2 linked regions of the Homo sapiens genome follow. The protein of the gene in region 1 interacts with the protein of each later gene in a pairwise test. Each region holds a gene or a part of one and is shown on either strand. Other genes may lie near its edges.

Region 1 (3,652 bases):
CCAGCCTACACCTAGGGGACAGAATCTCAGAGAATTGTTTCCAACGTATTATTCATGTCTTGCATTTGCTCAGCCAGATGTTGCCTTTCTAGGGCAGTGATTTTGGGACTCCATTTTCTTATTCAAAAGAGGATTTTCCTTTTAAGCTTCATTCTACTTCCACAGAGCTATTTTTAGAAGAAGATAAACTAAGCAATCTTTTCTGTGTTTGCTCTTTTTTAGTCGAGCAAAAGATGTGATAATACCAGCAAAGCCACCTGTCAGCTTTTTCTCCTTGAGGTCTCCAGTCCTTGACCTCTTCCAGGGGCAGCTGGATTATGCAGAGTACGTTCGACGGGATTCAGAGGTGGTACTGCTCTTCTTCTATGCCCCTTGGTGTGGACAGTCCATCGCTGCCAGGGCAGAAATTGAGCAAGCAGCAAGTCGGCTTTCAGATCAGGTAATGCTCACATTCAGCTTAAGAATCAAATGACTGTCAGTCCTATATGTAGGGCAGGATGTCCCCACAGAGACACCTTGCCCAACGGGCAGACTTTGCCAAGGTGAACTCCAGGAGTCGTTTCTAAGTTACAGAGCTTTCTATAAAGCAACAGAAAGGATTTCCAATTGTGGCGATTGTACTCCAAGGCAAGTGTGGGAGCAGATTCTGAATCTCATAACACAAGCCAATGCTTATCCTGGGGTGCCATACTGTTTGGTTTCAGCATTGAAAAAGGTAGAGGGACTGAAAATCCTAGTTCTTGCATATCCATTTGATACTTGCTAGTTAGGTATTTTAGGTAAGAAAATGTATGTATGATATGACTGCATTGTAACAAGGCCGACCTTTTTAATATATGGACCAGAACTATATTCAGCAGATAAGGAATGCCACCTTTGGGCTAGGTAAGAAAGATATATAGGCAAATAAGTCACCTGTTATGGCAGTGGTTTTCAGCCCAGTGGACCCCAGTTGTGCTTTAGAAAATAAGTATTTTATGATGTCCCTTTTTCTTCCTAAAAAGGAATTCATAGATGATAAAGTTTTCCTATACATGTAATTTCAAAATAATCTAATGCACGGATTGTAACATAGAGGTGAGGGGGGAAGAAAGTAATTTGTAACTAAATGATATATATTTTAGTATGTAAGTGCACAGTCAGAACAGGTCCATATACCTTTATGTAGAATCACTGAATGGGATAGTTACAAACGTAGACTGATAAAGGTGATATGTTGGTGACTTACCTGCCACATGGACATTGCTCTTAGTAATTGATTATCCTAAATGGTGAACAGTCTTGGTAAAATCCTGAACTATGCAAAGCCCTTTCTGCTCTCAGTTTACATAGAAGTTGCATTCCTGAAAAATTCAGTGAACACAAAAAGCATGCTTTAGATTCACATGTAAAATGGAGCTAGGTACTGGGCTTTGATAATAACAGGTTTTCCCCAACATCAGTGTTTGGCAGGCGTTTTGAACTCCTCTGGAATGCTATGGACGACTCTTCCGTGTGCAAAGCAGGTTTGAGTGTAGCAGGACATCTACCAACACCCCTGCCCTACGTATGCACTGTAGCTTCCCCCAGTCATTGTAGCAAGCCAAAAGCATCCCACAGATTTCTAAGACTCTCCTGCTCAGAACCACTGATGTGAAGTAACGTGTGTAGGCAGCTGAGTTCCAGAAGTTCATTTGGAACTGTCATTTGGTTTTTCTTAGAAACTGTGGAGCCTTCCAAATTTAGAGAACAAAGTTCACGTTGCCCATGTTGGGCACAAGAGGGATATCTATTGTGTTTTATTAATAAGTGTGAATTAGCTACCTTACTGTCAGCCTAAGCAGTATGTCCTTCTGAGTGATGGCATTAGTATAATAATAATGATATTCTGGTGTGCCAGGCCCCATGCCAATTCTCAACCACTTTGCAAGGCGATGCTGTCAGCCCTGTTTTTCTGAAGCAGGACTGCAGGCATAAGGGGTGAAGCAGTTTGTTTACCATCACGTAGTGGTGGGGGTTGTAGTGCAATCCAGGGACTGCTGCTTTTTTTAAAAAAAAAATTTCAGCTCCTTCCAAATTGAGAGCTTACTATTCCATGTACTCAGTAGGGAAAAAAGTGGGTTTATTTTTGGAAACACACAGAAATCTTTTGAACTGTATTGCATGGTAAGATTGGTAAACACGGTCCAAGTCCTGCCTGGACATCATAGATAAGAGTATGTCTTTCTTTTTTGTTTTAGTGATAAATTATGACCTTTGAAAACTCAAAACAGTTTTTTTCATAGTTTCTGTTTCAGTGAGAGAGGAATCATTCTATTTTTAAATTTCATCTTTTAAATCTTGGTAACTTTTCAGTTGTTATTCATAGTCATTTGAAAACCTTTTTTGGCTCTGCAGGTGTTGTTTGTGGCAATTAACTGTTGGTGGAACCAGGGGAAATGCAGAAAACAGAAACACTTCTTTTATTTTCCTGTAATATATCTGTATCATCGGAGGTAAGAACTTTTTAAATAGCGTCTCTCATTCCAGTTTAGTTTGCCAGTTTATAAATGAATTTTGCATTTTTTCTATATTAAAGTATTAGATATTCACTATAGAAAATTCAGATAATACAGATAAGCAAAAATTAAAAAAGAAAGATCTGGATAATCCACCCCCCTTTTTAAAGCTAAACATGGGATCAGGCAGTAATACTATTTCCTAAACTGCTTTTCTCACTTTTTTGAGCATCTTTTCATGTCATTACACATTTTACAGCATTGTTTTTAAAAGTACGAATTACTCCAATGCATTTCAGATATCGTAAGAGTGTTTTGTAAAAATACACAAAATTTCTTATCGTTTCATCTGGAGGCATAGCAGAGTCCAGAGTGTATCTTACCATCTATTCTATTGGGAAGAAAATTACTACAAGTACACAGTCCCATGTCCACAATTCTTTTTTTTTTTTGAGACGGAGTCTCACTCTGTTGCCCAGGCTGGAGTGCAGTGGCGCGATCTCCGCTCACTGCAAGCTCGGCCTCCCGGATTCACGCCATTCTCCTGCCTCAGCCTCCCAAGTAGTTGGGACTACAGGCACCCACCTCCCTGCCCAGCTAATTTTTTTTGTATTTTTAGTAGAGACAGGGTTTTACCGCCCATGTCCACAATTCTAAAGTCACAAAGAGGGCTGAAAAACGGAAAGAGTTTTATTTTATCTTATTTTATTTTATTTTATTTTGAGACAGAGTTTAGCTTTTGTTGCCCAGGCTGGAGTGCAGTGGTGCAATCTCGGCTCACTGCAGCCTCCGCCTCAGGGTTCAAGCCGTTCTCCTGCCTCAGCCTCCCGAGTAGCTGGGATTACAGGTGCCTGCCACCACGCCCGGCTAATTTTTGTATTCTTAGTAGAGACGGGGTTTTACCATGTTGCCAGGCTGGTCTCGACCTAGGCTGTACTAGAGTACAGCCCAGACCCTGCTGTGAATGATAAGTAATGTCTAAAAATCTGACTCAAAGAGTTTTGGAGATAGGAGATAGGACTTTGGACTTTGTTCAGGGTGATTGGCTTGAAGTTTGTTGAAAGTAAAATGGGTAAAGGAGATTTGATCAGTAGAGAGCTTTCCTTTTTCCTTCTAAAGTTCTTGGGCCATAATCAATGGGGATTTATAGCAAACATGCACAAACAGTGATTTGT
Region 2 (3,652 bases), on another chromosome or scaffold:
CTCATCTTAAAATGAAGAAAACAAAACCTATTTTATGGGATTACTGTGAGAATTACATATGTAAATATGTCTAAAGGGCTTAGAAAATTTTTTGGCACATACTAAGTGCTCAATAAATGTTAGTTGATTATGGCTGGGCACAGTGGCTCACGCCTGTAATCCCAGCACTTAGGGAGACTGACGCAGGCAGATCACCTGAGGTCGGGAGTTCGAGACCAGCCTGACCAACATGGAGAAACCCCGTCTCTACTAACAATATAAAAATTAGCCGGGCGTGGTGGCGCATGCCTGTAATCCCAGCTACTTGGGAGGCTGAGGCAGGAGAATCGCTTGAACCCGGGAGGTGGAGGTTGCAGTGAGCCAACCTCTACCACGCCATTGCACTCCAGCCTGGGCAACAAGAGCGAAACTCTGTCTCAAAAAAAGACAAAAAAAGGCCAGGCCCAGTGGCTCACGCCTGTAATCCCAGCACTTTGGGAGGTCGAGGTGGGTGAATCACAAGGTCAGGAGTTCGAGACCAGCCTGGCCAACATGGTGAAACCCTGTCTCTACTAAAAATACGAAAAATTAGCTGGGCGTAGTGGTGGGCACCTGTAATCCCAGTTACTCGGGAGGCTGAGACAGGAGAATCGCTTGAACCTGGGAGGCAGAGGTTGCAGTGAGCTGAAATCACACCACTGCACTCCAGCCCAGGCGAGAGAGTGAGATTCGGTCTCAAAAAAAAAAAAAAAAAAAAGTTAGTTGATTATGATGATAATTTTCTAATTCATATCACTCTGTTCCTTCTGCCCTGTTTTATCCCAGGTTATTAAACCTGAATCCTGTGTTCCATGTGGAAAGCGGATAAAATTTGGCAAATTATCTCTGAAGTGTCGAGACTGTCGTGTGGTCTCTCATCCAGAATGTCGGGACCGCTGTCCCCTTCCCTGCATTCCTACCCTGATAGGAACACCTGTCAAGATTGGAGAGGTATGACTTATGCAAGCCGTCATTGTTTTATGGCCTCTTTATTCGCCTTTCAAAGGCTTAGTGTCAGTTTTTGTTCTAAAATTAATCATCTCAAATATATTTCTTTCCACAAATAATGACTAGAATTGTAAGATACTTACTTGTAGAAGAGTCCTGTTTGGGTTTGTCTGTCTAATACCTTTCTAAACCAAACTTCTTTCCCCGCCCCTTTTTCCTTCTTGCTCTTCCCTGCTTCTCCTTGCCTCTTCTTCCTTCCTTCCTCCCCTTCATCCCATTTTGGAAAATTTCAGACATATATAAAACTAGAGAAATTAGTATAACTAACCCCTGGTTCTTATCACTTAACTTCCATGATTACTAACTTGTGTCCATTTTTTTTTTTTTTTTTTTTTTTTTTTTTTTTTTTTTTTTAGCTCTATTGCCTAGGCTGGAGTGCACTGGCAGGATGTCAGCTCACTGCAACCTCCGCCCCCCTGGGCTCAAGCGATTTTCTTGCCTCAGCCTCCCAAGTACCTGGAATTACAGGCATGTACCACCACCATGCCCGGCTAATTTTTTTTGGTTGTATTTTTTAGTAGAGATGGGGTTTCATCATGTTGGCCAGGGTGGTCTCAAGCTCCTGACCTCAAGTGATCCGCCCACCTCAGCCTCTCAAAGTGCTGAGACTACAGGCGTGAGCCACCGCGCCTGGTCATGTCCATTCTTTTTTTAATGTCTCTCTTTTTTTTGAGACAGAGTTTCCCTGTTGTCCAGGCTGGATTGCAGTGTTGCAACTTTGGCTCACTGCAGCCTCTGTCTCCTGGGCTCAAGTGATTCTCATGCCTCAGCCTCCCAAGTTGCTGGGACTACAGCCATGTGCCACCATGCTCAACTAATTTTTTTGTATTTTTAGTAGAGACGGGGTTTTGCCATGTTGGCCAGGCTGGTCTTGAACTCCTGACCTCAAGTGATCCGCCTGCCTCGGCCTCCTAAAGTGTTGGGATTCTAGGTGTGAGCCATGGCACCCAGCCTTTATGTCTGTTCTTGATTTATCAATACTGTCGTTGCCTCCTCCTGACTCTGTCCAATGAATTACTTGGAAGCAAATCTCAGCTATCATATAATTTTATCTGTGATAAAATTATCTTTTATTCTTGCTCTTATGTTAGACATACTTCATAATAGGTTATCAAAATGAAGTTGCTTATTTCCAAATATTTAACCAGTTTAATCCAAACTGATTAAATCCATTAAGAAATTATTTATTGCTGAGTGTGGTAGCTCATGCCTGTAATCCCAGCACTTTGGGAGGCTGAGGCAGGAAAATCACTTGAGCCCAAGAGTTTGAGACCAGCCTGGACAACAAAGCAAGACTCCATCTCTACAAAGAATAAATAAATAAGTTAGCCAGGTTAGTGGTGTGCGCCTGTGTTTGTAGCTCCTCAGGAGGCTAGGTTGGACTATTGCTTGAGGTGGGGAGGTTGAAACTGCAGTGAGCTGTGATCACACCACTGCACTCCAGCCTGGGGAATAGAGCAAGACCCTATCTCAAAAAAAAAAAAAATTATTATGTAAGTAACATTAGCAAGAATCAAAATGACTATCTTCCTACCTACTCTTCAGCAAATCAAATATTATTTTCCCCTGATCTTACAAGTTCTTATCCATGCCTGTACATTTTGTTTTGTTTTGTTTTGTTTTGTTTTGTTTTTGAGAGGGAGTTTTGTTCTTGTTGCCCAGGCTGGAGTGCAATGGCGCAATCTCGACTCACCACAACCTCCACCTCCTGGGTTCAAGCGATTCTCCTGCCTCAGCCTCCCTCATAGCTGGGATTACAGGCATGCGCCACCATGCCTGGCTAATTTTGTATTTTTAGTAGAGACAGGGTTTCTCCATGTTAGTCAGGCAGGTCTCGAACTCCTGACCTCAGGTGATCCGCCCACCTCGGCCTCCTACAGTGCTGGGATTACAGGCGTGAGCTACCGCACCTGGCCGCCTGTACATTTTTTTTACACATGTTCTGTACTCTAATATAGAACCATGGAGTTCTCCCCTACAGGTAGGTTTGTGTCATAATCAACTGATAAGATATGTTAAATAATTTTTTTTACTGAGAATAATGAAAGTATACACAATTTTTTTCTCTTGTTCCAGCTTTCTTCTGTTAGAAAAAAAAATCTGTTTAGAGTAATAAATTATTTTATATTAAAGGCTATACCTGTAACCTCATTATTGCTTGTTTTCTGCTGTCCTTGAGTGGATGAGAAGGAGGTAATTATAGCTGGTGGTCTTATTCCTTGTTCACATAACAGTGTGGTGTATATATGAAAAAGAAAAAGTGTGGTATATATGATAATAAATCAGTCCTGGTGTGGAGGTAGGAAAAATAATTGAGAGTCTCTGTTTTAATATATGCTTTGGGAATAGGAATGTAAAAGTAGACATGATGTCCCAGTTTGAGAATAAGATTGGAGGTGGTTCTTCGCATGTGGTCTTCATCTGTTGGTCTACATGGCGTAAATAATAATTTAAAGCTCTTTTTTTTTTCCAGGGAATGCTGGCAGACTTTGTGTCCCAGACTTCTCCAATGATCCCCTCCATTGTTGTGCATTGTGTAAATGAGATTGAGCAAAGAGGTCTGACTGAGGTAAGAGTCAACTGTAGGAGATGGTGAATTTGTTATTTGTGTTAATTCGGAGGTTTT

What was found. Proteins that work in one complex are often made in the same cells at the same time.
Region 2: the proteins of TXNDC11 (region 1) and RACGAP1 interact in a two-hybrid assay, tested with the Homo sapiens proteins (one large-scale study listed by BioGRID and IntAct).

What each region holds. Positions count from the first base shown.
Region 1 is NC_000016.10:11,732,804-11,736,455, reverse strand, and holds part of TXNDC11 (thioredoxin domain-containing protein 11), read left to right. Parts: intron 1-222; coding exon 223-439; intron 440-2,376; coding exon 2,377-2,474; intron 2,475-3,652. UniProt on the Homo sapiens protein: May act as a redox regulator involved in DUOX proteins folding. The interaction with DUOX1 and DUOX2 suggest that it belongs to a multiprotein complex constituting the thyroid H(2)O(2) generating system.
Region 2 is NC_000012.12:49,994,357-49,998,008, reverse strand, and holds part of RACGAP1 (rac GTPase-activating protein 1), read left to right. Parts: intron 1-804; coding exon 805-969; intron 970-3,499; coding exon 3,500-3,595; intron 3,596-3,652.